Linked DNA regions of Homo sapiens: region 1 is linked to region 2. Evidence: fine-mapped expression QTL. A gene starts in region 2. The other region holds a variant in brackets. All regions are shown on one strand. Distances are between the middles of the regions. Region 1 overlaps ZNF267 (zinc finger protein 267). Region 2 holds the start of ZNF267 (zinc finger protein 267).

What was found.
Region 1: its variant is fine-mapped to the expression of ZNF267 in blood mononuclear cells (TOPMed, PIP above 0.99).

What each region holds. Positions count from the first base shown.
Region 1 is chr16:31,911,535-31,927,105 of GRCh38, forward strand. ZNF267 (zinc finger protein 267) reads left to right here. Exons shown (of 4, transcript NM_003414.6): 4 at 2,942-5,823. The coding sequence ends at 4,947. Among named protein-coding and RNA genes, the nearest start is that of ZNF267, 46 kb to the left of the region's middle. The variant T/C (reference allele first, on the strand shown) is at 5,765.
Region 2 is chr16:31,864,134-31,879,704 of GRCh38, forward strand. It overlaps ZNF267 (zinc finger protein 267), which reads left to right and starts at 9,674. Exons shown (of 4, transcript NM_003414.6): 1 at 9,674-9,836. The coding sequence starts at 9,834. It also overlaps the pseudogene RBM22P13. RefSeq lists enhancers at 9,495-9,789, 13,259-14,458, 13,461-13,750 and silencers at 9,676-9,725, 9,876-9,955.

The DNA.
Region 1 (15,571 bases), 47 kb after region 2:
TTTCAGTCTATGTGTATCTTTATAGATGAAGTGTATTTCTTGTGGGCAGCAGATAATTGGGTCTTCCTTTTTCTTTTTTTCACCCATTCTATGTCATCTAATTGGAGTGTTTAGTGCATTTCCATTCAGCATTATTATTGATAAGTATGTGTTCACTCCTGCCATTTTGTTATTTGTTTTTGCATCTTCTCTTTCTTTTGTCCTTCCTTTCTGTCTTCATTTTAGTGAACATGATTTTTCTTGGTGGTATGATTTAATTTCTTGCTTTTTGGTTTCTGTGTCTGTTGTATGTTTTTTTATTTGAGGTTACCATGAAACTTACAAATACTATCTTATAACCTATTGTTTTAACTGCTGACAACTTCACACTGATTGCCTAAGTGAACAAATAAGCAATAAGAAAACTAGTAAAAACTCTACCTTTAACTTTGCTTCCCCATTTTTCAACTTTTTGTTGGTTCTCTTTATGTCTTATTGTACTGTCTTTGTCTTGAAACATTGTTGTAGTTGTATTGAGTCATCATTGAGTATTTCTACTTGAGTATTTTACACACCACAGTTACCATATTATAATACTCAGTTTTTCTCTGTGCTATTACCAATGAGTTCTGTACCTTCAGATGACTTCTTATTGTTCATTAACATTCTTTTCTTACAGATGGAAGAGAATGCCCCTTAGTATTACTTGTAGGACAGGTCTGGTTTTAATGAAATCTCTCAGTGTTTGTCTGGGAAGGTCATTTTTTTCTCCTTCATGGCTATGGAATATTTTCACGGGATAGACTATTCTAGTGTAAAAGCTTTGCTACTTCAGCACTTTAAATATGTCATGCTATTCTCTCCTGGCCTGTAAGATTTCCACTGAAAATCTGCTGCCAGACGTACTGGAGTTTCATTGTATGCTGTTTCTTTTTTCTTGCTGCTTTTAGGATCCTTTATTCTTAATTTTTGGGAGTTTGATTATTAAATGTCTTGAGGTAGTCGTCTTTGGGTTCAATCTGCTTTGTGTTCTGTAACCTGGTTGTACTTGGATATTGATATCTTTATAGATTTGGGAAGTTCTCTGATCGTATTCTTGAAACTTTCTACCCCTGTCTCTTTCTCTCTTTAAGGCTAACAACTCTTAGATTTGCCCTTTTCAGGGTGTTTTCTAAATCTTGTAGGCATACTTCATTCTTTTTTGTCTTCTCTACATATTTTCAAATTGCCTATGTTCAAGCTCAATAATTTTTTCTTTTGCCTGATCAGTTTTGCTATTAAGAGACTGATGCATTCTTCAGTATGCCAATTGCTTTTTTAACTTCAATTTCTGCTTGATTCCTTTTAATTATTTCAACCTCTTTGTTTGATTTATCTGATAGAATCTGAATTCCTTCTCTATTTTATCTTGAATTTGTTTCCTCAACACAACTATGTTGAATCATCTGTCTGAAAAGTTACTTATTTTGTTTCTCCAGGATTGGCCTCTTATGCCTTATTCAGTTTGTTAGGTGAGGCCATATTTTACTGGATGGTCTTAATGTGTAGATGTTCATCTGTGTCTTGGCATTGAAGAGTTAGGCATTTATTGTAGCCTTCGCAGTCTGGGCTTTGTGTCCACCCTTGTTGGGAAGGCTTTCCAGAATTTGAAGGTACTTGGATCTCAAACTCAATAACGTTGTTCTTGCAGACTCATAGAGGTACCATGTGGTTGGTCTTGGTTAAAATCGATGAATTATCTGGATTACCAAGCAGAGACTCTTGTTCTCTTCCCTTAGTTTCTTCCAGACGAATGGAATTTCTTTCTCTATGCTGAGCTACCTGGAGCTGGGGTGGGATGACATAAGCTTCCCTGTTGCCCCCACCACTGGGACTGTGCTAATTTAGACTTGAAGTGAGCACAGCACTGGGTGTCACCCAAGGCCCAGTGTAATTACTGCCTGGCTACCACCTAAGTTTACTCAAGACCTTAGGCCTCTACAATCAGCAGGTGGTAACCAGCCAGGTTTGTGTCTCCTCAGGGCAGTGAGTTCCCTTTGGCCCCAGGTAGGTTCAGAGATATTGTGTGGGAGCCAGGTATTGAAGTCAGAAGCCTTATTTATCTCGTGTTCTATTCTACTGCAGCTAAGCTGGCATTCAAATTACAAGACAACATCCTTACCACTCCTCCCTCCCCTTTCTGCAGGCAGAGGAGCCTCACAATGTGTCTGCCACCACCACCAGCCCACAGGGGTTTCCACTGGGCTATCACTGATGTTCACTCAACACCCAAGCACTCTTCAGTCAGCTTATGATGACTGCTTCCACAACTGGGACTTACTCTTTGGTGCAGGGCAGGTCCAGAAATGCTGACTCAGGGACCCTAAGAGTCTGCTTGGTGCTCTACCCCACTGTGGCCAAGCTGGTACCTCAGGTGCAAGACAGAATCCCATTTACTTTTTCCTCTGCTTTGCTCAAACAGAAGGTGTCTTTCACTATACCCACCACAGTGGGAAATGTTCTGGGTCACACCTGAAGCCAGCACATCTCGGAGTCCAATGTTCATGATGTGTTATTGGGGTACCACTGTAGGTTATTCAGAGACCAGCAGCTCCTAAGTCAGAAGGTGATGAATCCTGCCAGGTCTCTGCTGTGATAGGGCAGCACTGGGTTCATTGTAGTCCCCTAGTCACTGTGCTCTCCGTCTCCCAAATGAACAGATTTCTCCCCGCCATGCAGATGCTGCTGAGGGGCAAGGGCAAGGTGGCACAAGCACTCCCTTTCCTTCACTGTTGGTGTCTTAGTAGTTCACGTGCCACTTTATTGTAGTAAAGTTTGTATATCAATTGAGAAAACACGGCCTCAGGTTTTTCACTCAACTGTTGTTGTATTCTCAACTTAGCATAATTTTGTATATTAGATTTGTAAAATATATGTACCTGAATATAGTAATTGGAATTCTTAAAATTTTTATATCTTTCAGATGTGTTTTCGCATTATAACAAGGACCTGTTGACAGAGCACTGCACAGAAGCTTCATTCCAAAAAGTGATATCGAGGAGACATGGGAGCTGTGATCTTGAGAATTTACATTTAAGAAAAAGGTGGAAAAGGGAGGAGTGTGAAGGGCACAATGGATGTTATGATGAAAAGACTTTTAAATATGATCAATTTGATGAATCCTCTGTTGAAAGTTTGTTTCACCAGCAAATACTTTCTTCTTGTGCCAAAAGCTATAACTTTGATCAATATAGGAAGGTCTTTACTCATTCATCATTGCTTAATCAACAAGAGGAAATAGATATTTGGGGAAAACATCACATATATGATAAAACTTCAGTGTTATTTAGGCAGGTCTCTACTCTAAATAGTTACCGAAATGTTTTTATTGGAGAGAAAAATTATCATTGCAATAATTCTGAAAAAACCTTGAACCAAAGCTCAAGCCCTAAAAATCATCAGGAAAATTATTTTCTAGAAAAACAATACAAATGTAAAGAATTTGAGGAAGTCTTTCTTCAGAGTATGCATGGGCAAGAGAAACAAGAACAGTCTTACAAATGTAATAAATGTGTAGAAGTTTGTACCCAGTCATTAAAACATATTCAACATCAGACCATCCATATCAGAGAAAACTCATATAGCTATAACAAATATGATAAAGATCTTAGTCAGTCATCAAATCTTAGAAAGCAGATAATCCATAATGAAGAGAAACCATACAAATGTGAAAAATGTGGGGATAGCTTAAACCATAGTTTGCACCTTACTCAACATCAGATCATTCCTACCGAAGAGAAACCCTGTAAATGGAAAGAATGTGGCAAGGTCTTTAACCTTAACTGTAGTTTATACCTTACTAAACAGCAGCAAATTGATACTGGAGAAAACCTTTACAAATGTAAAGCATGTAGCAAATCTTTTACTCGTTCCTCCAATCTTATTGTGCATCAGAGAATTCACACTGGAGAGAAACCATACAAATGTAAAGAATGTGGCAAAGCCTTTCGCTGTAGTTCATACCTTACTAAACATAAGCGAATTCATACTGGAGAGAAACCTTATAAATGTAAAGAATGTGGAAAAGCTTTTAACCGTAGTTCATGCCTTACTCAACATCAGACAACTCATACAGGAGAAAAACTTTACAAATGTAAAGTATGTAGCAAATCTTATGCTCGTTCTTCAAATCTTATTATGCATCAGAGAGTTCATACTGGAGAGAAGCCTTATAAATGTAAAGAATGTGGCAAAGTCTTTAGCCGTAGTTCTTGCCTTACTCAACATCGGAAAATTCATACTGGAGAAAATCTTTACAAATGCAAAGTATGTGCTAAACCTTTTACTTGTTTCTCAAATCTTATTGTGCATGAGAGAATTCATACTGGAGAGAAACCCTATAAATGTAAAGAATGTGGCAAAGCCTTTCCTTATAGTTCACACCTTATTCGACATCATCGAATTCATACTGGAGAAAAACCATACAAATGTAAAGCATGTAGCAAATCTTTTAGTGACTCCTCAGGTCTTACTGTGCATCGGCGAACTCATACTGGAGAGAAACCCTATACATGTAAAGAATGTGGCAAAGCCTTTAGTTATAGTTCAGATGTTATTCAGCATCGGAGAATTCATACTGGCCAGAGACCCTACAAATGTGAAGAATGTGGCAAAGCCTTCAACTATAGGTCATACCTCACTACACATCAGAGAAGTCATACTGGAGAGAGACCCTACAAATGTGAAGAATGTGGCAAAGCCTTCAACTCTAGGTCATACCTCACTACACATCGGAGAAGACATACTGGAGAGAGACCCTACAAATGTGATGAATGTGGTAAAGCCTTCAGCTATAGGTCATACCTCACTACACATCGGAGAAGTCATAGTGGAGAGAGACCCTACAAATGTGAAGAATGTGGCAAAGCCTTTAACTCTAGGTCATACCTCATTGCACATCAGAGAAGTCATACTAGAGAAAAACTTTAAAAATGTAAAACATGGAGCAGATTTTTTACTTGTTACCCATGTCTTATTGTGCATCAGATAATTTATATGGGAGTGAAACCCTACAAATGTTAAGAATGTGGCATAACCTTTAACTATTTTCAAGCCTTACACAATAGCAGAGAATATAAACTGAAAAAATCCATACAAATATTAAAAATGTGGCAAATTATTTTAAACTGTGCTCAACCCTTACTCAAGATAATCCATACTAGAGAAACACTATAGATGTAAAAATGTGAAAAGTTTTATTCAAAATATCAAACTTATGAGTCACCTAGGGGTTCATAGAAAAAGGAAGTTTGCAGATGCAATAAATGTGAGGAAGTATTTAATAAAAAATGAAGTCTAAATGTGTCAGAGAATTTATGTGAGAAAGGACTAAAGCACAGACACTTTCAGCCTTTATACTAAATAAGAGTATTTTTTGTACAGAATAATCTAAAGGCAAAATAATTAGATAATTTATTTGCTTATATGTTTTAAAGTAGCAAGAACATTGATGTTTTGACAGGTATATTTCATAGATACTTCATTTGTATTTACAGTATTTGAGGTTTTTGGAAAGCAAATATTATTTATATAATTCAGCTTTCAAATCTGTTGCTGCTTTTCCTTAATCCGTGGTGTTCATGTGAAAATATGTGTTCTGTTTTTTTTTCTGCATCAGAACAATGTGAGGTCATTCTACGTTAATATCATTAATATCAGCATTTTTCATGGAAGTTTAATGCCAAATGTAAAACACATGAAAATTTTTAAAAATATGCTCTTTGTGTTTGAATAAAGTAGTAATGCA[T/C]GTAAACATATACGTGTTTAGAGCTCTTTTCTATATTAAAGTAAGAGGGATATTCTGAATTTTTGAAATTACTTCAATTCCTCCATAAGTTTTTTTTTTTTTTTTTTTTTAAAAAGACTTCATTTAAAGCAGAGGTCCCCATTCCCAGGCTGTAGACCAGTTACTGGTCTGTGGCCTGTTAGAAACTGAGCTGCACCAGTAGGACATGAGTGGTGGGTGAGCAAGCATTACCACCTGAGCTCTGCCTCCTCTCAGATGAGTGGTGGCATTAGATTTTCATAAACCCTATTGTGAACTATGCATGTGAGGGATCTAGGTTGTGTGCTCCTTAGGAGACTCCAACTAATGCCTGATGACCTGAGGCAGAACATTTTCATCCCAAAACCATCTCTCTCCTTGCCAGTTTGTAGAAAAATTGTCTTCCATGAAACCAATCCCTGGTGCCAAAAAGGTTAGGACCACTGAGTTGAAGTACTAACATATCTTTAAAACAGAATAAAGTAGGAGTCTTTAGTATTATTTGATGTGATAGAATACATAGTGAAAAAGTTGAGTATTTGATGTGATGAGAATAACATCTTCACCTGTATCAGGGAAATGTGAAGATAATTCCTATCAACATTCACTAAATAATTAGCCTCACTTTAAAAAAACGTAGAAAACAGAACTGCAAGATTAGTATATTGGAAAAAAAGAATGCTTCTTGAGTACTTGTAACTGTATTTTGACCAGGAAGAATATAGTGGATTTTAAAATGCTGTAGACTATGGGTGAACTTAATTTCTTTTAATAAAATGAGTTGGTTTTTCATGTTTTAACACTGATGTACAATGAATGAAATGTTGTACTGACACCAGTGTTAAACTATTCCATCTTATCTAAGATTGTGGTTAACAGATGGAAATAATATACTATGGGTTAACAGTGAAATGTCTTCCCTAATATTCCTTTTGCTGGAGGACTTAAACTTTCAATAATTTGGAGAATAGTTTTCTCATAGTGACTATCTTAATAATGATTAGATAAGGCAGGTAAGATTGAAAGGCCACAACTTAGCAGCAAATGTTTTACATTCATTTGAGAGCCAGTTTGTAAGTAGTTCACCAAAAGATGTTGGGTTAAAGCAGTGGTTTGAATTAATTGCATAGCATTCATATAACAGAATACAACTCAGCCTAAAGCTCACACCCTATATGAATCTCATAGACCTCGTAAGTGAAAAAAGGTAGACATAAAATTGTGTTTTGTATATTTATGTATTGTATTATTTCAGGCAAAATAAACCTATGGTGAAATAAACACATTGATAGCCTCTGGCTGAGGAAGAAAAGATAGGTGCCTGGGACAAAACACGAGTGAATTTTCTGAAGATGATGAAAATGTTCTGTTTCTAAACTAGGTGAAGGTCGTAAGGGTTTATTTGTCAAAAATTTACAACTAGAGTTTGCGTCAGCCCATTGGTGCTGCAGAGTCTGTTTCCTTTGGGTTGGGACCTCATTCCTTTGAGTTGGGACTTCACCTCATTCAAGTCCTGGCAGAGTCACTAGAAGAGATGTGATGATCTTGTCCCAGACCCCAAGAGTGGGTTCTTGAATCTCACACAGGAAAGAATTCTTGGTGAGTTGCAGAGTGTAGTAAAGTTTATTAGAGACTACTCAGTTACAGAGTAGGGCATCCTCAGAAAGCAGGAAGAGGAATGCCTTGCAATGAGAAGAGATAGTTTATTGAAAGCTCCTCTGTTAGAGTAGGCCTTCCTCAGAAAGCAAGAGGAGAAATGCACCCATTTCAAATGGTTATATAGGTTATTAAGAATGGTATACTTTATTACAGAGGATTCTAATCAGCTTATGACAGGCTATTAGTATTGTTACTTTTCTATGTTACTATTGATTTCAGCAAGAATTTATGAGTACTATTTTTAAAGCAAAACATACTTAAACTAATAATGCTTTTTCTTAAAGTACTGGGACATTTTCTTAAGTTTTGAGTTCTTATTTAGTTGATTAACATCATTAACTCAGTGTTTCAACCATAAACATCTTGTGACCAAGAGTGCCCAGCCCCCTCGGAAAGTAATCCAGCAGGTTTGGCATTTTTTTTTTTTTTTTCTTGAGACAGAGTCTCGCTGAGTTGCCCAGGCTGGACTGCAGTGGTGCAATCTCGGCTCACTGCAATCACCGCCTCTTGGGCGTAAGCCATTCTCCTGCCTCAGCCTCCCGAGTAGCCGGGATTACAGGTGCCCGCCACCACACCCGGCTAATTTATATATTTTTAGTAGAGACAGGGTTTCACCATGTTGGCCAGGCTGTTTTTGAATCTCTGACCTCAGCTGATCTGCCCACTTCAGCCTCCCAAAGTGTTGGGATTACAGGTGCGAGCCACTGTGCCCGGCCATAGGTTTGGCTTTACCTGGCCTTTATTCAAGATAGGGCCTCTAGTTAGGATACTTCTGGCAGAATTAGCATGATTGTTATCTGAGAGTGGTCTATCACACTGCAGTGAGGAAGGGTGTTGAACAGCGACTAAGGTGTAATGGCTGCTCATTTGGCTACAGAGGTCCAGCTAGCAGCAAAAGTATAATGACTTGAGTAGGAATTACAGTTAGGAAAAGGATTTTTAAAGAGCTCTATAGTCCAAAGTTGACTTAATAAAAACTGATATTTACTCTACGTACATACACATATGCATGGTTTTAAGATCTCCTCTCTCTGTAAAAGTCAAATGAATTCTGTTTCTCCATTTACTTCTGTCTGTCCTTCCTCTTGCCACTCCAAATGCCACATGAGGGGAACGCCCCCCAAAAAAAGAATTCTAACAGAATTCTAGCCTAGAATCACAGAAAACAGAAAAGTTGTCACAGTCTCCTCCTCTTGGGAGGAAACTGCTTTTTCTCATGAGGCCCTCAGAGTTGTAAGCAGAGAGATCCCTCTCAGGTCTAACACTCTGCTCTTTCTTGTATTGCATTACTTGATCTCCTTGGCTTTGGGGGATACCAGAGATTACATTGTACTATGAGAGAACTTGACTAGGTGGATGTAATTGCTGGTGAGTCACTGGCAAGAGCTATGGTGTTAGAGGGCTGACAGCAGTCGCTTACAGTAAATGTTTATTACTCTAGGGAGTTGCTTATTTCTTTGGGTGTTTGGATAGAAAAAGTATGGTTTAGAATGTAGAGGCTACAGAAACAGCCCCCAAGCCACCCCACCGAGGGGTAAGACACCCATGTGGGATGCAGTAATCATAGTGTGTGCTGGCATAGGATTGCCTACCAACCTCAAATGAATGTCCCTCTACTGAGGTGCACTATGGAATCATTGAACTGCCCAGTCCTCTGGCATGGCATTTCTTTTGGGGGCTCAGAATTCAATGTAAAAATGGGATTCTTGATTTGGGAGAATCTAAGTGTTATGCCTTCCAGCTGCTCCTGCTTTGCACATATTTAAATATTAAGCCCTAAAAACTGCATGCTTCCTTTGCTTTATTTATTAAGTGGCTCCACCCTGAAGCCAGTAATCTAAAAAACACACTACGTTAAAAAGCCCATCTAGCCAACTAAATCAGTCTCCAAAATGTGCAACTTTCCGACATTTAGCTGGCTGTTTTGCTTCTCTTTGTTAAAACACACACACACACACACACACACACACACACACACACACACACACGAATACTTTTCTCCAGGACCTGGGAACAATGTATTTGAAATATAAATACGAAAAAAGATAGTACCCGATCTCACAATTTTGCAGTAAGATAGAAGCCTAATTTTATCAGGCACTTAATTCCAAGTTGCAAAACAATTTTCTGTCACAAAAGTTGGAAGTTTATTTTCCCCCCCGGTTTTTTTTTTGAGACGGAGTCTCGCCCTGTCGCCCAGACTGGAGAGCAGTGGCACAGTCTCGGCTCACTGCAAGCACCGCCTCCGGGGTTCACGCCATTCTCCTGCCTCAGCCTCCCGAGTGGCTGGGACTACAGGCACCTGCCACCACGCCCAGCTAATTTTTTGTATTTTTAGTAGAGACGGGGTTTCACCGTGTTAGCCAGGATGGTCTCAATCTCCTGACCTCGTGATCTGCCCGTCTCAGCCTCCCAAAGTGCTGGGATTACAGGCGTCAGCCACCGCGCCCGGCCTATTTTTCCTTTTAATAAAGCCAGTTATCAAACCTAGATCATCTTTCTAGTTACCAGGTGAATTTAGGATAAACTGTGCCAAATGGTGCTGTCAAATTTTCCTACTTGAGGGCTACTAATATTAATCTTGACAACACATATGTTTTATAACTCAAACCAGACTGTGATGTTTAAACACTACATGTTTTGCTTCTGATGCACATCACATTCTGGTTTGAGTTATAAAACAATTTTATCTCTCTTCTACCTTTGTGGGGAGGCATTCTAGGTTGGGAGGCAATGTTGTTTTAATTATATTTCCCAAGCACTGTTCAGAATTACAAGATCAAATATAAACATAAAAGGTACCGATCAGGTTTCATACTAGAAGGGACTTTGGCAGATACCCATCAAATTTTCTTTCAGGCTTTCTTCCCCCAAGCCACAATTGTTCAGTGAAGATCTTGCCTGCCCTCAAAATGTGAATGCAGTATGATCTTGCTGCCTATTTTGGGCTCTGCAGTTTCATCTGGGGCATAGTTAGAAAAGATTTGTAATAAAATAACCTCATAAAGTGGCAATCATCCGTTCCAGCCCTGTCTTTCAATGTACCTGGGGACTTTATAACAGAAATTGATTCAGAGAACATGGGGCCTGGTAGCACAGACATGTACCTGCGCATTGAGTTGGCCTCTTCCACTTCCCTGTCTCTCTGGGAACCTAAATCTGCACCACTAAATTTTGAATGCAGTATCTGGGGCTCTTCAGAATGCTCTATAGCAGCCTTCCTGGAAGGAATCTCTTTTCCTCTTGTCTCTTCTTGCTGTAAAACCCAAGAATACAGAACAGATGCGATCCCTCATAGAATTTGCACACAAGGGGAATTTGCCTCCCCGTGAGATTCATAAAACAGGGCCAGCCTTCAGTCTGAGGATTACAGAAAATCCAGGGCAGACCTTTCTTGTATCATGAGAGATCAATACAGACCCTATAAAGCAGGAGGATCACTCAGGTTGGGGCCTGTAGAATCTTTTATATCTTGTTCACCAACCTGCTGCCATTGTGTGAGGAGCTTCTGGTGGTCAATGCAGAATCTATAAGTGTAAACAAGCATTAACATCAAAACTACAACTTCCAGGGACACCAGAACCTGCCTTGTTTAGAATGTTAAATATATCTTTTCCAAAAAATTGATAATATTTGATTATCTAATCAAAATATTATAACTATACATTAAACCTTACATAGAAAGATGTTAAAATTCTGTTAAACTTTCTTGAATTTTGTTTAAATGATCTTAAAATTCTACACTTTGGAATACTGACTTCCATTCTTTAAAATCTGTGCTTTTCTAGGCAGTCTATCCTAAATGTTTGTATTTAAATAAAGTCTTTTAGATTCTAATCTTTCTGATGACTTTAGGTTGACGTAACTATAGTCACAATCTTGTGAAAGAAATCTCAAAAACATATTCCTCTTTTGGCTTTCTCATAAACGGTTTGGCCACAGAGTCAAGGAGAGAACATTGGAGTGTCTGAGAGCGTGGGTCTTGACTAATTTTAATCAGCGTTCCTGGGCACAGAGGACATACCCTCCATTTCATTCCTGATGTAATATTTGATGTAGTTCATGTTACTATAATCTTGTTACTGTGATCCACCAAAATATGAGGTTAAAAGACCTTTCAATCTTTTAGGAAGAAAAAGTGTTATATTTTCCTCATCTTTTTGGGTTTCGTGGTCAGAAACATGCACTGGCAGACAGGATTTTTAAAGTTTCCAATAATTTGTAGCTCAGGATTTGTGTCCAGTGTTTTTCTGTCTCCTACCTCTGCAGCTGCCTTCTCTGACTCATGTTTTTCTCACATGAGCTGAGAATAAAATGTCTTGAGATTGGGAGTGTCCATGACTTGCGATGCATCTTACTCTGTTTAATGAATAGTAGATGCATGTCTGTTTTTTGACGGCATCTAAAATATCATAATTATTATCTTGCCATTTGTGCATTTTACACAAATATTTAATAAAACTGTTATTAGCCAGGAAGGGCAATTCCCTTTTCTGATATTGCTAGCTGTGTTTCTTGGGTTGCCACTATTGCCACTGAATGAAAAAAACCTTTTCTTCACCTAACCAGGTAATCTGCAGTTCTCATAATCGCTTTGTGCTATTGATGAGCAGTCATATGTTTTTCAATGCTATTTATAAAGTACGGTAAAATCGATGAGGAATATGATGCTTTCGATTGTTATACTAATAAAACACAGGATATTTTGTGATATATAGCTATACTTAAATATGTCAGGAAGAATGCAAGTAACTATTAAAATAATATTGTTAATAAAATGATGTAGAATTCCAAATCCTGGCTCATGAATGTGATGTACAGCTGAGGCCAAACAGTGTCACCGGTGCCTGGAGATAGAGGAAGGTTTATTCAATGGGGCCAAAGTAAGAATGTAGGAGAGAAAATTTCTCAAATCCATCTGAAAAAACAAAGCAGCATCAGGGGATGTTTATTCAGCCAGAAGATAAGGAAGGGGGAGATTAAGGGAATTGAGGGGAAAAGTGTGTATTTCTTCAGTCTCAGATAACATCTTGGCCAACAAGACTTCTCGGTGTCAACAGCTGGTAACAATGTCCTTCAAGGCATGTATTTCTTCTGCAAAATGTTTCTGTGACCCTCCTGCTTGAAAAAGAAAATTATCTCTTCCTGCTTGACAACAGTATATCAACAATTTATAATTTTATTGTAGAAACAAGGGATGCTGGCTTTTGTGCAAGCAAGCAAAGGTTTAATTAGAAATTTCATTATTTCAGTCGCTAAAAATGCTGGGGTGCTGAAATCTCAAGGGGCTTGGTTATAATAATACAACACTAAACAATAGCTATTATTATAAAACTGAGGAAATAAGTCTTATAAAACTTTATTTTTGTCTAAGGTAACATTCTGTAATACAAAATAACATTGGTTTTGGAAATGGCTTCTTTCTTTGAAGTCATTTTTTTTTTCAGACATTTGATCTAAGCACATAGACTTTATGATTAGCTTTTAGTTCCTGGTTCACTTGATGATGTTTTTCCTGACATTTCCATGATTGCATGGAAGCTTTTGGGCTTGCAATATCATAAACAAGCTAAGATGAAAGTGAGAATAAGGAAGATGAACTTGTTCTGCATTATCCGTCTCTGAGAGTACCCAGGGGCTTCACCCTCAGCCTGAGGACAAACTGTCACTGTTCAGAGCAATCTGAGATGTGCATTCAAATACATATATTTGTATGGTATCAGATGGCACCCAATTCTCCTCCATGCTCCTTCCAATCTATATGACCTCTATGGATTTTTCTTCTTTTGCTTTTCTCCTAGGTCTGCATCATGTTTTCAGATCCTATGATTATTTCATGTTGGCGTTGATGGATTCAGCAAGTAAAACTACCAGACACACAGTTACATCTAAAAAGCAGAAAGACAACTACTAACTCTGTAGTATAAGTATTTGGATACTCTATATGTAATTCATTATCTGAAATTTATTTAACTGACTATCTTTTACTTTATTTGTTAACTCCAATCTGTGAGAAACATAGTCCTCTCTAGTCCAGGCTCAACACCAATGCCCTCCAGAGTCTCCTTGGAGAGGGAGGGCTCATGCTGATGTAGGAGAAACACTTTTTTATTAGTACATCAGAGTTATTTAGAGTGAAGAGCATACATTAGAGGTGATGAACTGGATATCCCATGTGGTAAGAGAAGAAAATATTAAAATTTTAATCTTTTCTATTATTTTTATCTCTTTTGGGTATATGAACTATCATATAAGAGGATAAAAATAAAATAATTCAGATATAAAGTTATTAAATAATTTCATGAATATTAGCATTTTATGTCCAAATATTGTTTTACTTGTATGGGTTTGTGAACCTTAAGATGTGGAGACCATTGAGCCTTTAAGGCAATATTCTTCTGGCAATTCTCTGGCTTCTTATTGTTAGCAGACTTCTGAATGATTCTACTCCGAGGTCATGCCAAGATGGTCTTCTGTTGTTGGATAAAGTCCTCTATCAGGGAAGAAATAAGTTTATTGGGCTGTGTTTTCTTGTTATCTGGGGGATTGAAAAACACTAAGTGTTGGTCTCTGTTTTTCTCAGTTGAGTTAGGGGAATAACATGCATTGCCACAAAACAATTCCTTCAGTTCTGGAGTCCTTAAGCAGACTGTCTTCTTCATACCACCTTTCAGAGCTCTCCTTTCAAGGCTTCCTGTGTGATTTTCAAGGTTTATAGCTGTAGTTAGTGGAGAAATGCAGGGGGAAATGGGTCTGTTATAAGAAAAATTTTAGACTGTAATATTTCCCTGTCCCACAATCTGGAAGGGAGCCGAGACTAAATAATGATCCAGACCAATCCAGCTTGGCAAGTAGATAAGTGTGTTAAGACTTACATGTGGGACCCTCCTAGGAGGCAGCAGGACAGCGTTAGAGTCCACATCACCTCCCATCTCTAAGCTGCTTTTAAGCACTTTTACAGCTTTTTGCCTACCATGTGTGTATCATGGGACTCTCCCTTGGTATGTTCTCAGATACTCTCTAGGATGTTTGCATTCTCAGAAACACCTGCTCCTCAGCTGGTCCCCATGGCCTTGGCTCACTACCTGGCCTTCAGTGCTCAAGCAGTGGATATACACCTTTAAGTTATCTAGTGGAGGACTTGTCACACTATAGGGTCTACATCATCCTTTCCAAACTCAAAGTTTCTACTCACAGACTTTTTTGTTGACTAAGGATTCTTCTGACATCCTGAACTAATTTAAGATTGCCTGGAAAGTCTTCCAACAAATCAGTAATAAAATGTATTCCTTATATCCTATGTCATCTTGAACATAATGGAATACATGGCCCAAAAAAACTCACCAGTGTTAGCCCACCAGCGTTGTAGTACCACAAAACAAGAGAAACATGATAATATAAATAAAGAAACTGAGTGTGCTGCCTTCTATTGCATTATAACAACATCAGCAAATGACTGACACCCTCTCCCCTGATTTTCAGGCATTAAAATTAGGGTTCTGTGGGTTAATCTTATATCAATATGGAGGGCTCTTTCTTTTTGATGACATTACCATTTAAATTTGTAATCTTTGAGTAAGCAGATTGTCCTACATACTGCGGGTTAGGCCTCATCCAATCATTTGAAGGTTTAAATAAAACAAAAAAGCCAGCCTTCCTGAGCAAGAGAAATATCTCCATTAGATCGCTTTTGTACTTTATCTGCACCATTAACTATGTCAAATTTTCCTCAAAATTAAAACTGGAATTGCCCTCTCAGATCTCAGTCTTAATCTTCTCAGCCCACATTGCAGATTTGGACTTGCCAGTCTCCATAATCAAATGAGCCTGTGTGTGTACATATATATATACACACACATACATGTATATGTATATTATATACTATATTATCATACACAAACATACACACGTGTGTGCATGTGTGCATGTTATCATATAGTATATAATATGTATTATAAGTATTGAATTATACACTACATATATTAAGGTTAAATGAATTCATAAGGGAGAGCCCTTATTCTGGTAGGAATGGTATCTTTATAAGAAGAGGAAGGGACACCAGAAAGCTCTTTCTCCACACACAGAGAGGAAAGCTATATGAGAACACAGAAGGGAGCCTCCAATAAGCCA
Region 2 (15,571 bases):
ATGAGAAGCCTACAGATCCAGACGATCCCCTTGCTGATAAGAATATTAAAGACTGAATCCAATATTATGGAATCAATGACCCCGGAGCAGATAAGCCTCTAAAGCAGGCTTCACCATACCTTGTCTGGATCCACCAGAGGACAAGGTTATCACCACACTCTGTGTTGGTGATCTCGGTGATGCCATTACTGAGACAGATCTAAATAATCATTTCTAATTATTTGACGATCTGAATGATCACTGTTGTGCAGACAGTAGAGTGCTTTCCATCCAGGTTTCCACAGGGCAGGCTGCAGAAGTGGCTGCTGAGAAATCCTTTAATAAGTTGATTGTCAAGGGCTGCAGACTCGGTAGAAAACGGAGAGGATCCCAAGCAGCCAGAGGGAAAGAAAAAGGACAGAACCACAGGTTGGGATCCAGCTAACGCCTATTCCAGCACTGCCAGGAACAGGAACTCTTCCTCCTCCTGCAGCAGCAGCAGCAGATGTATCTGCCAACCACAGCAACATACCCCCACGTGCTCCTCCAGCTGTGGTGAGCATTGCCTGGCCACCAGCCCCTGGCATGTCCTGCTGCTCCCCCCAGGATTTCAGCCACCCATGTTCCATCCAATGGGACCATTGCCTTCCTTTTGAGAGGACTCTAGGATCAATCCATTGTGTTGGATCCTGTGTTGGACTCCAGGATCAATCCATCTCAGGACCCCCAGAGGATGGGAGCTTGTTCTGGAAATCACAGCAGCCCCTGTCATATTTTCACCACCCTGTGGTTCTATGGAAGAAGCATCACTTTAAAATCTCAATTAATGAACATTGGAGGAAATATTTTTTTCTTTCTTTGTGGTTCCCAGTGCACCTGAATGTGGTCACATATGGGCATGCTTTTTCATATGGATTCAAAGGATCAATGGAGCTCAAATAAGCTGTCATTAAAACATCTGTTTACTATGACTGTAACATGACTAATAAAACCTACTGCCTGTTCCTCTCACCTCTATGGGGGATGAGTGGCTGAGTGAGTTACAGAATGTCCAATGGAGTTAGCAGTCCAATCATATAATCATTTTGTCTCTTTTTATGACTGTGGAAATAGACCTGAGGGGAAAAAAAACCTTTTGAACATGTTTGTGTCCATGGGGTATTTTCCATTTTATTACCTTAAAAAAGGATCACTGGTACTAATTGTTGTAGTGGTGTGTGTGATTTAACTCTTGTGAAGCCACACCCTCAGAAAAACAGGTAGAAACCACTTCCCATCACAGCCCAGATCTTTTCTTTCCTGTCTTTTCCTCATGTATGACCAAAGAAATCTGAGTAGTAGTTTTACTTCCATATACACCAAAAAAAAAAAAAAAAAAAGACAAAATAGAATGTCTTTTTACTTCTATCAGCCAGATGAAAACAGACTTCTTGGAGCATTCTATCATGAAATTAGAAATCATTTTTATTTACATGAAAATTATGGAAACAATTTTCATTAGGTTTGATGAATTTCCCTAAGCTCGAAAGCTAAACACAAGCATTTCCTGACATATCATCAAGAAGAGAAATAGCCTGAAACACATTTGAAAAACACATTAGTATAGAACCCATGCACCCCTCCAGAGTCTATCTTAAGAAGAGCTCCTCAGTCACACACTAGTCCTCTGCCCCAGGCCCCAAGTCGTCCATGAAGCTCTCCTCATTATCTCAGGGGAAAAAGTTCCCTGGGCATTGGACCCTCTGGGGGTCAGCTTCCCAGCCCTGGTGGTGCATCAGAGCCCCCTGGGGGCTTCAGGCCTGCTGATGCCTGGGCCCTAAGCTGGGTCACCCCATCAGAATCTCTGGGATGGGACCTCACAGGATGGTGAAACCCTCTGTAGGGAGTTCTAATCTGCACCTTGCTGTGAATCCCACTTACTGAAGTCCTCGCCTCCCTGTGGTACATTAAGATGAGGAAAGACAAAGGTCACCCCTGCCCTTAGAGCAGCTCATGACAAAGAGAATTCTGTTCTTCTAAGGCTATGGATGTCAACCCAGGCTGCATGTGAATATTACACAGGGAGATTTTCACAAACGCGATGGCCTGCTCCAATAGAACGTGTTTCTTAGAACTGTTTCTCCGCATTTCTTGGGATGAGTTTATCAAAACCATTTTACTTCTTTGTAGATGCCAGTTTGACACATCTTTCTCTTGAACAAGTTTTGTCATTAATATATACACACTCCCACCTTATTTTTCACTTTTCGAACTCAGAGAGATATAGAAAAAATAAATCGAGGCCAGGCGCAGTAGCTCATGCCTGTAATCCCAGCACCTTGGGAGGCCGAGGCAGGCGGATCATGAGGTCAGGAGATCCAGCCCATCCTGGCTAACACAGTGAAACCTCGTATCTACTAAAAATACAAAAACTTAGCCAGGCGTGGTGACGGGTGCCTGTAGTCCCAGCTACTCGGGAGGCTGAAGCAGGAGAATGGCATGAACCCGGGAGACGGAGCTTGCAGTGGGCCGAGATCACGCCACTGCACTCCAGCCTAGGAGACAGAGCAAGACTCCGTCTCAAAAAAGAAAAAATAAATCAGCCGAAGTGTATTTCCTTTTCCTCACTCAACAATCAATACAGAATACTTCTGTGACCTCTGGTCACCAAAATTTATGGAGATTTCTCTATATCAACAGCCAATTCTGCAGCAGACACTGGCTGGGTGTTGTATAATTCAACTGGATTCTGACAACGTCTACCTGGAGCTTCAGGGCCCTCTCTTGGTGTGGGCACCCTACCTTCCAGGAACTGCCATGTATCCAGCTATCCAGAAGCTCTAGGAACCCCTTCATTTTGGGCTTTCCTGCAAGCTTCACTAAATAAGCATGATTGATTAAATCATTGGTTATTGGTGATTAACTTAACTTTCAGCCTCTCTGCCTCCTCAGAGGTTGCGGTGGGGCTAAGAAATGGTCCTATTAGAGTGAAATTGTATCTGCAGGCAAAAGACTGCAACATCCAGGTGATGCTTCTACATGTGAAGAGAGGATACCTGCTCCCAGGCTGCAGCACTGATCTGTGGTGCAAGAATTCTGCTGGCTTCATTTTCTGATTCTCCCCTGTTCCTCTCTGTTAAGTTTCACCACAAGCTCCACAGGCATCCCAGCCCTTCTCCTCCTTTGTCTGTGTTTTGGCTGCAGCTCTCTCAGTTGCTCTCCCCACCCCATGTCATCTCACATGGCACGTTATCATTCTGATGAGTAGTTTGAAATTATGCTAATACCATAAGAAACCGTTTTCAATGGGAGAATTCGAGGTCATTTAAAGACTTTAAATAAACCATTCTGACCACTTAAATGAGAATAGAAGAGAGTAATGTCTGTAATCCCAGGCCTGTTAGAATGTCTCTTATCAAAAAAACCAATGAAGGCAAGTGTTGGCAAGAATGTGGAGAAAAGGAAACCCTTGTACCCTATTGGTGGGAATGTAAAGTAGTACAGCCATTCTAAAAATGGTATGGAAGTTCTTCAAAAACCTAGAAATAAAAGTATCCCATGTAAAGAAAATGTGGTGCATATACACCATGGAATACTATGAAGCCATAAAAAGGAATGAGATCATGTCCTTTGCAGGGACATGGAAGGAGTTGGAAGCCATTATTTTCAGCAAACTAACACAGGAACAGAAAACCAAATACTGCATATTCTTGCATCTAAGTGGGAGCTGAACGATGAAAACATATGGACACATGGTGGGGAACAACACACACTGGGGCCTGTTGGGGGATGGGGGAGGGAGAGCATCAGGGAGAATAGCTAATGCATGCTGGGCTTAATACCTATGTGATGTGTTTATCTGTGCAGCAAACTACCATGGCACATGTTTACCTATGTAACAAACCTGCACATGCCCCACACGCACCCTGGAAGTTAAAGTAAAATTGAAGAAAAAAAACTATCCTATGATCCAGCAATTCCACTTTTGGGTATATATCCAAAAGAATTCAAATTAGGCTATTAAAGAGGGATCTGCCCTCCTGTGTTTATTTTGGCGTTATTGACAATAGTCAAGATATAGAAGAAATTTAAGTGTCCTTCAACAGATGAATGAATAAAGATGTGTATATACACAATGGAGTACTATTTAGCCTTTATAAAGAAGGAAATTATGTCATTTGTGATAACTTGGATTGAACTAGAGGGTATTATGCTAAGTTAAATAAACCAGGAACAGGAAGACATATACTGTATGATCTCACCTAGCTGTGGAATTAAAAATATTGATCTCACAGAAACAAAGAATAGAGACTAGAAAGGTAGTTACCAGAGGCTGTGTCAGGGGGAAGGGTGGGATAGGGAAAAAGAAGTAATTTATGGAAGGATACGAAGCTTTAGTTAGACTGGAGGAATAAGCGACCTATTGCACTGCACGGTGAGCACAGTTAATAATGTATTGTACATTTCAAAATTGCAAAATTAAATTTTTAATGTTCTCACTACAAAAAAAGATAAATTGGTGAGTGGATGGATACGTTAATTAGCTTGATGGAATCGTTCCATAATGTATACGTATATCAAAATGATCACATTGTATCCCATAAATACATAAAATTATTATTTGTCAGTAAAAAAGAAAAGACCGTCAGCCTGCTCTGGTTCTAGTGATATTATCTTTGATCTTCTGCCGCCACCTGGTGGCCAACTTCAGAGTGAGGAAGAAAGCAGAGGGGTGAGAAATGAAGTGACCACTTTGCCTCTGGAGCCCAAATGAGGACTTAGCTCCCGGATGTGGGTGGGAATGTATTCTTTCACAGAATTCTCCCAAATTAGGGCCTAGCCCCCAACAAAACCTTTGGCATCCTCCACGAAGTCCCCCACTCACGGCAATTGGTCTGCTGTGTGGCTGCTCTCAAAGGAGCTGAGACTGAAACCTGAGGTTGAAGAGCCACCTACTAGGTGGGAGGATTCTGGATTCCACAGGACTAAGCATTTCCTTTAGTTCAAGCAGGCAACGTTTCTCGTACTCAGTGGCAAACACACCACAGTACACACACATGCACATACGCATGCACCACAAGCACCATTTTAATCTATTTGCATGTATTTCATCCCAGGAGTGATTAGTCCTGTCCCCGATTCAATCTGGGTAATTTTTTTTTCTTCTCATGGTAATGCATGGAAATAGAGTTTCTCAGGTGTCTTTAGTGAGAGTACACACCCTGTTATTTTTTTTCTTATTTTTTTGGAATGCTGTTGCCAATTGGATTGATGTGCTGGTAGCAGGTTTCATCCAATCATTGCATGAAAGCACAGATACACCACCCACAGATGAATTAGGACTTTGTTATAGAATATATTTTTTCTTTTTAAAATAAAGCCTGTAGTCAAGTTTCTTTCTTCTTCCTTTTTTCTTCATTGTGAGGAAAGAATGTACTATGTTTCCATGAAGCGGAACTTCCATTTTGCTTCCCATAGTCTATTTGTCATCTTCCTCTCTCTCCTGTCACACCCCCTCCAGCTTGTCATGTGGCACAGTCCTTTTCTGAGCTCATGCACTTCTCAGCTTACCCTGACAATGGCAGTCATGAACACGTGAGTCAACCACTTCTAGCCTGTTGTTTTTTCCTTCAAAGCATAAGGAGGATGTCTCATTTCCTTCCTCTCAGGTTTTGTCAGCAGATAGAGCTTTACTGTAGTTTGCAGTTGCATGAGATGTGTTGCCCTCTATCCAGGGTGCAATGTGGCTTGGTATCACCCATGGACTGACCCCTTCTTGGGTTAATTTACCTATATAACTTTTCTGGAAGGGTGTGACCCTGGCAGCCTACGGAGACCCTGGGAATATCTTCCAGAGGGCCCTGGACCAGGGATGTCTGCCTGGGTGTGAGACAGACAACCTCTCACCCTCCATGTACCTCCTGGGTCAGGGCATGGAAATCTCACAGGCACCCTGCTCCAGGCAGAAGAGGAGGGGGCAGCCTTAGAGGGTGTGGGCAGTTCCCTGGCTCCTGGGGGGACTTCAAACTTATTGCAGACGGAAACCCCTTCTTCCTCATTTTCAGTCCAACCAACACACTTGGTGGCTAGAGAAACTTTACTTCCTGTTTTTATTTATATATTAAATGTTTTCTTTTCATTTTACACAAGATGTGTATTTAAACAACCAGATCCTGGATTTGAAGAAGAACATATCTGGAATCCGTTCTGTTCTTTTAATTGTCACTTAGTCCTGTGTGAGGACAGATTTGTTCTATGTGTAACCGCTACATTTAAAAAGTTATAAAATTGTTCTTAGCGTTACAATGATATATTTTTAAAAATAAAATTTTCTAATTGAACAATGTATGCAAAGGTTATTCCCCCTTTTTTTTTCCTGCCCCCAACAAACCTAAAGGATCACTATATTTTTTATACTGTTGTTGTTAAAGTCCTGGAATATAGAGATAAACAGTGAGTGAGCAGTCCCTGGTGGAGAAAGAGAGTCTTTTTCACAGAAACAGTGTTTTCCCTCAGCTGTCTTCATTGGAAATCACTCAACACCAATGACTCAATGGCCATTGGAAATCAATGATCGTTGTTCATTCAGTACAAACAAACAAGCAAACAAAAATTATCAATATGTTTGTACAGCTACGCCCGATAATTTATGTACAATAAAGGAATGAGGAACAGGAAAGTGAAGAAGAGAGAAAGGGATGCTGGACCAGTAGATGTGATGGAAACATATTGCAATTTTCTACGTGAGAATGTCTGCTTGGTCTGTAGAAACAGAGTTCTGGAGTAAAGCAGTGAGTATGTTCTCAGTAGACCCTCCTGTCTGCTTCTGGAACACATCAACTGAATCTTTGTCCTCCATTTCCAGTTCTGCAGATGTGTCTGTTTCACTGATTGGCCCCAGTCAAAATGGAATCTGATCTGTGTCATGTAGAAACTCTGCCTTTCACCAAAGGCTTTCACTCATTCACTAAGTGGTGTGCACCTCTTCAACATCAACTGCATCCTGGGACCATCCTACCTGCCACCTTCAAATTCTGCCATAGCGGAGCCTGAAGGCTCTTCAGCTGCAGCTTCACCAAAGAAGTCCAGAGTGTGCACCAAACTAGTGAGCCAGCAGCTCCCGATGCCGCAGGTGAAGGAGGCAGCAGAGCCTTACTCGCTGTTTTTATCACCATCCCTCCAGCAACAGCAGCAGCAGCAGCATCCACAACTACTATTTCTAATTGTGGTAATAATGATGATCACACTTAGAATAATGATAAATAACAGTAGTTGTAATTGCTGACATGTTTAGTTTATATATAGATTTATTATTTGTAATGTTCTATAATTTACTTTTAGTAATATACACATTAATTGTGTCATAAATATCAGGACCTCAAAACACCCCACCTAATGAGTGATTCTCACATATGGACCCATGGCTGCCCACCTGCTAGCGTGGGTCCTCTCACCACTCCACCCCCAGAGCTTCGATCTGTCTGGTCAACATTCTGGGACAATGAAGTAGTTAAGTCATATGGTCTGACTGTGGTCTTGGCAAATAGCTTGACTTGTTAGAAATCAAAGGCTGACTTTAAGACGTACTCAGCTGTTTGGCTAAATTGTGGCAGAAAAAAATGTCTTCTCAGCAGATATACCTTTGTATCTCTTGCTTTCAGAGTAAAAGATTGTTTCAGTCACAGTAGTTTGAGTTAATCTGTATTGAAAATCATCAACAGCTTACAAATACTGAAAGGGGACAAAAATAATTTGCAGACACATTGAGTCCATTATAAGTGCTTTCAAATCTCTCCTATAAGAAATGAAAAATAGAATGTTAGGCCTTGATTTCTTAAACTCAGCCTTCAGCCATTTTCCCAAATTATTCTACATGTTTCCAAGACATTTCAGAAGCATTCTCTGGTGGGGATTATTTCCAATTGTGAAGAGTACTAGAAGGATGAGAATCAAAAGGAATCTTTCTTCTATCGCAAAAGAGTCAATCTCCAGGATTTCAAAGGCCTAGGGAAGCTGCTTGAGTTGTGAGGTCCATGGAGGTGCATGGGCTTTGGAGTCAGGCAGAGTTGATCCTGAGTTCCAGCCCAGCCCCTTAGTAGGCCCTAAGGACTCCCGTGGTGCTGTCACAAGCAGTGCTGCCTTTGGGAGCCCCTAACCTCCTGTCTTTTCTCCCTTCAGTGTGGGAAAGGGGTTTGGTCAGCCAGTGGTGTCAGCAGCCCTGTCCCACACCCGTTGTCTACACCTAATCTGGTGGCAGGGAGGCCACAGAGTGCAGCGACTAGAACTGGGTGAGAGGGTGAGAGGCAGCCATGCCCCAGGCCAAGACAAGTGCATGGAATCCTGACTGTCAGCAATCAGGGATGTTTCTGCTTTGGGGAGGGAAGCATTTGTTCCACACGTCTCACTGAATAAGGCACAGAGCCTGATCTGTCCCAAGTGGGAGTTTAACCAAGCTAGATGGCGGCCGAGGGCCCTGGCCCAGTTTGACACCCACCTCCTCTCCCACCTTCTACTCAGCCAGAAGACTAGGAGAATCTACTCAGCCGGAAGACTACGAGGTGCTGCAGCGCCACTAGCTCCAAGACTCCAGAAAAACAGGAATAGGGCATTCTGGCAGGTCAAAGCAGACAGAATACTTGAGCTCAGGAGTTGGCGAACTGACTATTAACCTGTAGCCCCAGTTACTTGGGAGGCTAAGGTGGGAGGATCGCTTGAGCTCAGGAGATGGAGACCAGCCTGGGCAACATGGTGAAACCTCATCTCTACAAAAAATACAAAAATCAGCCGGGCATGGTGGCATGTGCCTGTAGTCCCAGCTACTCAGGAGGCTGAGGTGGGAAGATTGCTTGAGCCCCGGAGGCTGCAGTGAGCCATGACTGCACCACTGCACCAGCCTGGGCAATAGAGTGAGACCCTGTCTCAAAACAAAAGCAAAAACCAGAGGTAGGGCTGAGGAGTCCGTGGCCACAGAGCCTGAGCCAGCACGGCCCAGAGGAACTGAGCTCCCAGCCCTGTCGCTGCCAAGGACCCTTCTTCCCTGAGCTTGAAGGGATTGAGAAGGAGAGACAGACGGACAGTCAGCGGCCCCGTTACCAGTGATGCAGACTCCAGGAGATGCGGGCAGAGTTGTAGATTAGAAGAATAGGCCAGCCCCTCTTCCACGTTCCACCACGGCCCGCAACATCCTCCTGGGACCCCAGCCTGCATGCCCCTATAAGATGCTTTTGCACTGGTTCAGTCTATGTATCATGCGAGGGCCTAATTGAAAACACGTGAATGAAGTGTACGGCCTTCTGTTCCCAGCTGAGGGGCCCCCTCCCACGGTGGCGTTAGCAGTGGGGTACAGTGCGGTAAGAGAGGTGCTAAGGGACGGGATGAGGGTCTTTCTTGCTTTAAAGGTGTCTAAATATACTTCTTCTTAAACTTAATTAGCTAATAAGATGTCTTATACAAGCAGAACCAGGTAAGGGAAAGAGCAAGTGTATTTCAAGTCGCAGCTCACCCCTTAATTAGCTGTAATACCCGCAGCAGGCGGCCCCACCTCAATGAGCCAGTCTCCCTTTCAAAAAAAAAAAAAAAAAAGGCACTAATAATGAGGGGGCGGGGCATGGAGCTTTATCCAATCAGGGGCGCTGGAGTGGAAACCGTCCAATCAGGAGTGAAGCCGGAGAGCAGGGGCGGCTTCCGGGATTTGGCGGGGGCCTTCGTCGGCTCCAGTTAGAGCTCGGGTCTCCTCGCCACAGCTCCGAGTCTTTCGTTCTGGGAGGCCCAGGCGGCTTCGCGTTCTGAGAATAAACAGAACCTCTGTTGCTCTGCGACTTGCAGGCACTGGGAGATTCGTAGCTAAGACGCCAGGGCATCCCGGAAGCTGGGAAATGGTGAGTGTGCGGGGTCGGGGGTCCCCAGAGGGAGGGAGGGCGGTGGTCGGAAGCGGCGGGAACCCGCTGTAGGGGCACCCGGGCCTCCCCGCAGTCAGCCTCGGGGTCTGGGCCCCGAGTCCCAACTGGTGCAGCTCGGCCCTCGGTCCCCTCCGCTGCAAGATGGCGGCCAGGCCGGCAGCCGGGACCCCGCGTGTCCTGTCCCATCCCGACCCCGCAGAGCGACCTCGTCCCTGGCCGGAGCCCTCTCTGGGCAGCTCCGCGTCGCAGCCCCGCGTCTCCCCCAGATTGTGCGGTGAGGACGGGAGCGTCTCAGGGGAGACCCAGGTTCGGTGTGTGGGAAGAAACCGTGCCCTGTGGGGTCCTCAGTCACTACTCCTCTTAAGAATTAAAGGGAGTCACTGTTAAAACGTTGAAGAATTTGAGCAAATAGCGATTTGTGACATGGGAAGCCTGCAGTCCTGGTTTGTGGTTCGGAGATCCCCAGAGGGGCTTGAAGGAAAGGTTTTTATAAGGTGCATGAGGAAGCAGACCAAATTAACCGATGGGTTACAGTTTGTAGTTGCCTTATTTAGACTATGCAGGTGGAGGTGAATTGGAGCTTTGTGGTTCGTTAAGTCTGAATTTTGTTTTCCCCTAAAGTTGTAATTTACAAGAAAAGCATTTGAGTTTGGTTTTGGTTTTTCTCCCTAGAAACCTGGGGCACTATAACCACTTCCGTATAATCGCCTGCTCATTAATCATCTTAACACTGCCCAGGGGAACTGGTTTTCCCCCTGCGCTTTCCTAACGTGTAGCACGCAGAGTCTCAAGTCCACCACTGTGTTCCCCCAGTCTAACTGGGCTTGCAATAAAATATTAAATTTCCAGTTCCTTCCCGACATTTCCAAAGGCCAACTTCCCCTCTCCAGTTCACATTCTTAACTATTGGTCATTTATTGTACATTTCAGACAGTATTTTACTCATTAATCATGATTTCACAGAGCAGTGGATGACACTTTTTTAAAGATTTGTGTTTTTTTGGCATACATTTCACGTGAGAGGAAAGCAGAGAATAAAAAATCCCTGACACTCCACTGCAAAAAAAACTGTGCCTCTTTTTCATTCATCTTCCCCAGGCACAGACACGTTATCGGAAAGAATGTCTTTTGACTTGAGGTTTTGCTTTGGAAACTTTACAGGGCCCTGTATAGCCACCCTCTATCCAGTCTTTTCCTGTTCCTGAATTTCAGAACTGTCTGGGATGACTCAAGATGCCCACAGTGGCCATGTCTCCTGGAGTGTTTAGTGACTGTCAGCCCCAGGTCACCTCCTGTTAGAGGACCGCCCAAGGTATGGAAATGTAGTCCCTCAGGGGAGCAGCTGGATGCCCTGGGGCTGAGAGAAATCTCCTGGGACACCCTTAACCTAAAAAGATAACCCCTTGGGACATAAGGATTTTATTTCTTCAAAGCTAGTTTTCATCCCTTGGAGACACATTGCTGGTCAGCCAATCGTTTGCTGGTATTGAGGGGAAACAGTCACAAATGATTCCTGCCCCCTAGATTCATTCAGATTTGTGAAGGGAGAAAAACTCCCAAAGGACCAAAAAACAAAAACCCCACCCCAGTGAGGTGGTGCAAACTCGGCTGCGGTGTCCATGGGGCACAGTGCAGGATCTGGGAGGATGGTCCCTGAGCATTTTAATGAGCAGTATTGGGGTAGGAGAATGTCTCAAATGATACCGTGACCTGACTTGACACTTGAGCCAGATATGTCTGTATTCCAACAGCATTACCACTCCCTGAGTTTGCTGCCTTAGATTGTTCATTTATTTCTACTTCAGTTTTTCAGTTAGTGTAAATTTCATCAGTAGAGCTTGAAAGATAAAAAACATTTCCAAGGCCATGAAAGGTGGATTTCAGAAAATTAAAATATCAAGTCATACTTCATTGTTAAAAATTCTTACTATCTTTTTTTTCAGCAGAATGAGTGTAGTAAGTTTCTCAGGTTTGTTCTTTTTTTGGGAGTAATTTAAAACAGAATCTCAGGGCTCACCTTTTGGAAATGCTGCCAGGGAAAAGAAACAGAGAAAATCTTTCTTTCATTATTGGCTGTAGAAAGTGAATACATTTTCACAACAACGTGTGGTAAATTGGTGAATTACATAGTTTCATCAAAACATCAGTTTCTTTTTTTTGTAGGGTGAAGAAGTTATGACAGTGGATATCTTTGTTCTTTATCCTCTTGTCTGGATGTTGAGTTTATTTTTTATTTTTTGTTTTTGGAGACAGGATCTCTCCTCTGTCACCCAGACTGAAGTGCAGTGGTGTGATCACAGCTCACTCAACCTCCTGGGCTCAAGTGATCCTCCCACCTCAGCCTTCCAAGTAGATGGGACTTACAGGGGTGCTGCGCCATGGCTGGCTATTTTGTTTTTTCTTTTTGTAAAGATGTGGGTCTCACTGTGTTGCCCCCAGAGTGGTCTCAAACTCCTGGGCTCAAGTGATCCTCCCGCCTTGGCCTCCCAAAGTGCTGGGATAACAGGCATGAGCCACCATGCCTGGCCTTGGATGTATGGCTTTAATGCTGAACGTAGCACTGGCTAGAATTGTTTATATATGATTATTTACTAAATGATCTGTTATCATGGAAATAAGTAAGTGGCCTATTTATTGTCTGAAAGGGATAGATACTTTAGTGTTTTCTGTTGAGGTATAAATTATAAAGGCGTTTCACTTTCCTTTATTCTATAAACACTGTTTGAGTAGTTTTGCTTTCTTCCAACACTGGGCATTCTCATTGAATACTAATTGAATAACCCTGACTGGGAAGCAGAAGCCTGAGCTCAGAGAGTGCAAACTAACCTGGTCTTGAGCCTGCAAGAAGAGGTCACTGAAGCCCAGTTAGTTCTTCCAGGGGAGTTTCCCCTGCAGGTTTCCCAGCCTGCTCACCCCATCCATGGAAGGAGCCCTTTATACTGAGAAGCTACAGAGCCCTGGAAAGCTGAAAGCTGAAAATCCACAGAAAGAGGCATTTGGGGTTGGGATGGAAGGAGGGTTGGGAGGCTCTTTCTGAGGGTAGAAATTGTGATTGTCCTGATTTTGGTTTTTCTTCCCAGAAACCCAGGGCACTACAACCACTTCCATATAGTCGCCTACTCATTAATCATTTTAACACTCCCCCCACCCGACAACTGGTTTTCCCCCTGTGTTTTCCTAATGTGTGGCACGCAGAGTCTCAAATCTACCACTGTGTTCCCCCAGACTGAGGCTTGCAGTAAAATATTAAGTTTCCAGTTCCTTCCCCACATTTTATTTGATTTTGTCAAATAAAACAAATTCAGGTTTAGGTAAGAAGTTCCTTAATTCTAAAGGAGTATTGCAATAGGGGGAAAGCAACAGCTGTAAGATCTTTGTGGATCTCAAAGGTTAGGCAGACAAAGACTTTCTTTCACAGGGAGGAGCAAACAAGCTCAGAAGGTAGGAGGGGAAGGGCAGGATTAAGGTGCCAAAATCAGATTCGAGATCAGAGAATGTTTCACTCTGATGTCAGCCTGTTCTTAGGAGGGGCTTAGGGAGGGGTTGAATGTTGACCAGGCTGTGAGTGTGTCAAAGTCCAGCAACCTGGAGAAAAATACAAAGTTTTGTTAAGTAGTTTATTCTGAACACTGAAGACAGAGCTGTTCAGCTGAGTCAGAAGGGGAATTTGGAGAGTCTGTGGCTTTGTGATGACTAAATCAGGGAGCATCATCGAAGTCATAATAGGGTTGTTTTTTGCAGTAGGCTGTTCTTGGAAAACACAAAAGATGGGGGATTTCTTTAATCACAGCTATTTACCAGGTTACTGTTCCTATTTTTTCCCACTACTTTTTTTTTTGCCCTGTATGTATTTATCTCATTTGGCTGTTCTGAACTATATCCTTATGATAACCTGATAAACATAAGTAAAGTGATTTGCTGAGTTATTTGAGTAGATCTTTGAAATGATTGAACTTAAGGATAGGGTTATGGGTGCCCTCGATTTACAGGCAGTAGCTTGGAAGTATAGATAGGGCCCCAGGCATTGTGACTGGCATCTGAAGTGGGGGCAGTGTTGTGGGACTGAGCCGAGAACTTGTGGGGCCTGCGCTGACTCTGCGTGGTGTCAGAATTAAGTTTTTGGCACCCAGTTGATGTTGGAGGATTGGTTGGTGTTCAGCAAACTCTACACATTTGATGTCAGAAGACAGACCTCACAGAGGCCTGGGCTGGAGAGAGACTCCCAAGTGTCTGTGGGAAGAGAGGCTGTGTTCTGCACACAGGCTGCCCCACTGTGCATTGTCCTTTGATTCCAGGTCTCCTGCTAGGGTGAGAAGGGACTGAACACTGAGAGGAAAGGAGTTCTGAGAAGAGACCCCCTCCCCGACCCAGCTGCCACCACATGATTCCCACCCACTCCTGAACATACCAACTAGGCATTGACATGTCCCCGTCCATCCCAGGAGAAGGCTTGACTGTCAGGAATTGCACCCACAGCACCTTTGCTTCCGGTTTCCTGCCAAAAACCCACACAAGTGCCTGAGGACTCCTGGCTTGTTGTAATCCCAGACACTGAATCCGTAGCAGCAGCCTAGTTTCTCCATCAACCTAGGCTTGTGGACCATCCAATCATAATCTCATCTGCCTGCGTGGACCCAGGGATATGTCAGAGCATAGTCCCACCTGGGCCAGTATCTGTAGCACAAACCAGTCCTTCCACCAACTTGGTACTGCCCCCTGCTCATGGCTCAATAGCACCTTCCTCTCTTCTGCCTTTTACTTCCCCACAAGCCCCTTCTTTATGTGTACACGGTGTTCCCAAGGTCACCCCACAGGTGCCTGAATCCAGCACCTATTGGAACTCAGATGTCTGTGAGCTCAAGACCATGGCGCTAGATCTGGCTGTTGTAAGAGCAAATACAAATTAGAAATACAAGACTTAATCCTTCTTGAAAATAAGGAAAGAAATTTTTCTTTTTTTTTTTCTTAAAGCATTTACTTTGGAAAACTTTCATATGTAAATTATTTTTCTGTTTTACAACCTGTCTAAATCACTCTTAACAGCTAAATAGGCCATTTGTCAGTCTTTTTGACTCAGTACTGCCTTTCTCTAGGAACTGGGAATCATTGATATAAAATGTAAATAGCAAAGAAGATAGATCCATATCCTACAGTTTCTCTAGGAGGGCAGGCACCTGGCTCCAAGTTGCAAATCTGCCTGTCATAAAGACATGAAGTTTATTTTTCCTTTGACTATAGCCAATTAAAAAACACAGATGGCCTCCCAATTCCCAGGTGAATTTAGGATGAACTCTCTCTGACAAATGGTGCTGTCAGGTCTTCTATTGAGGACTAATTATGGTGACTTTTCACCAGTGGGTATTTTTCTAATCTCTTAGCAGGTTGCCTATCATTCCTTTACATTCTGGGCTAATTATGTCATAAAACAGTTTTCTTTCTTTTCTACCACTATGGATAGTTTTTCTGGGGTTGGAGATGATTTTATGATTTTCTTCTTCATTATATTTTTCAAACATTGCCCAGAATTACTACACAGAATATAAACCTGTACGATGCCTGTAAGACTTCACTCCAGTGGGTCCTTTCCCTCTTTGATTTCTGTTCACAACCCACATTTGTGCAGCAAAGTGCCCATTGCCCCGAAAATCTGCAGGCAGAATGGTCTTTCTGCTTACTTGGGATCTTCAGTCGCTTCTAGAATAGTTTGACTAGAT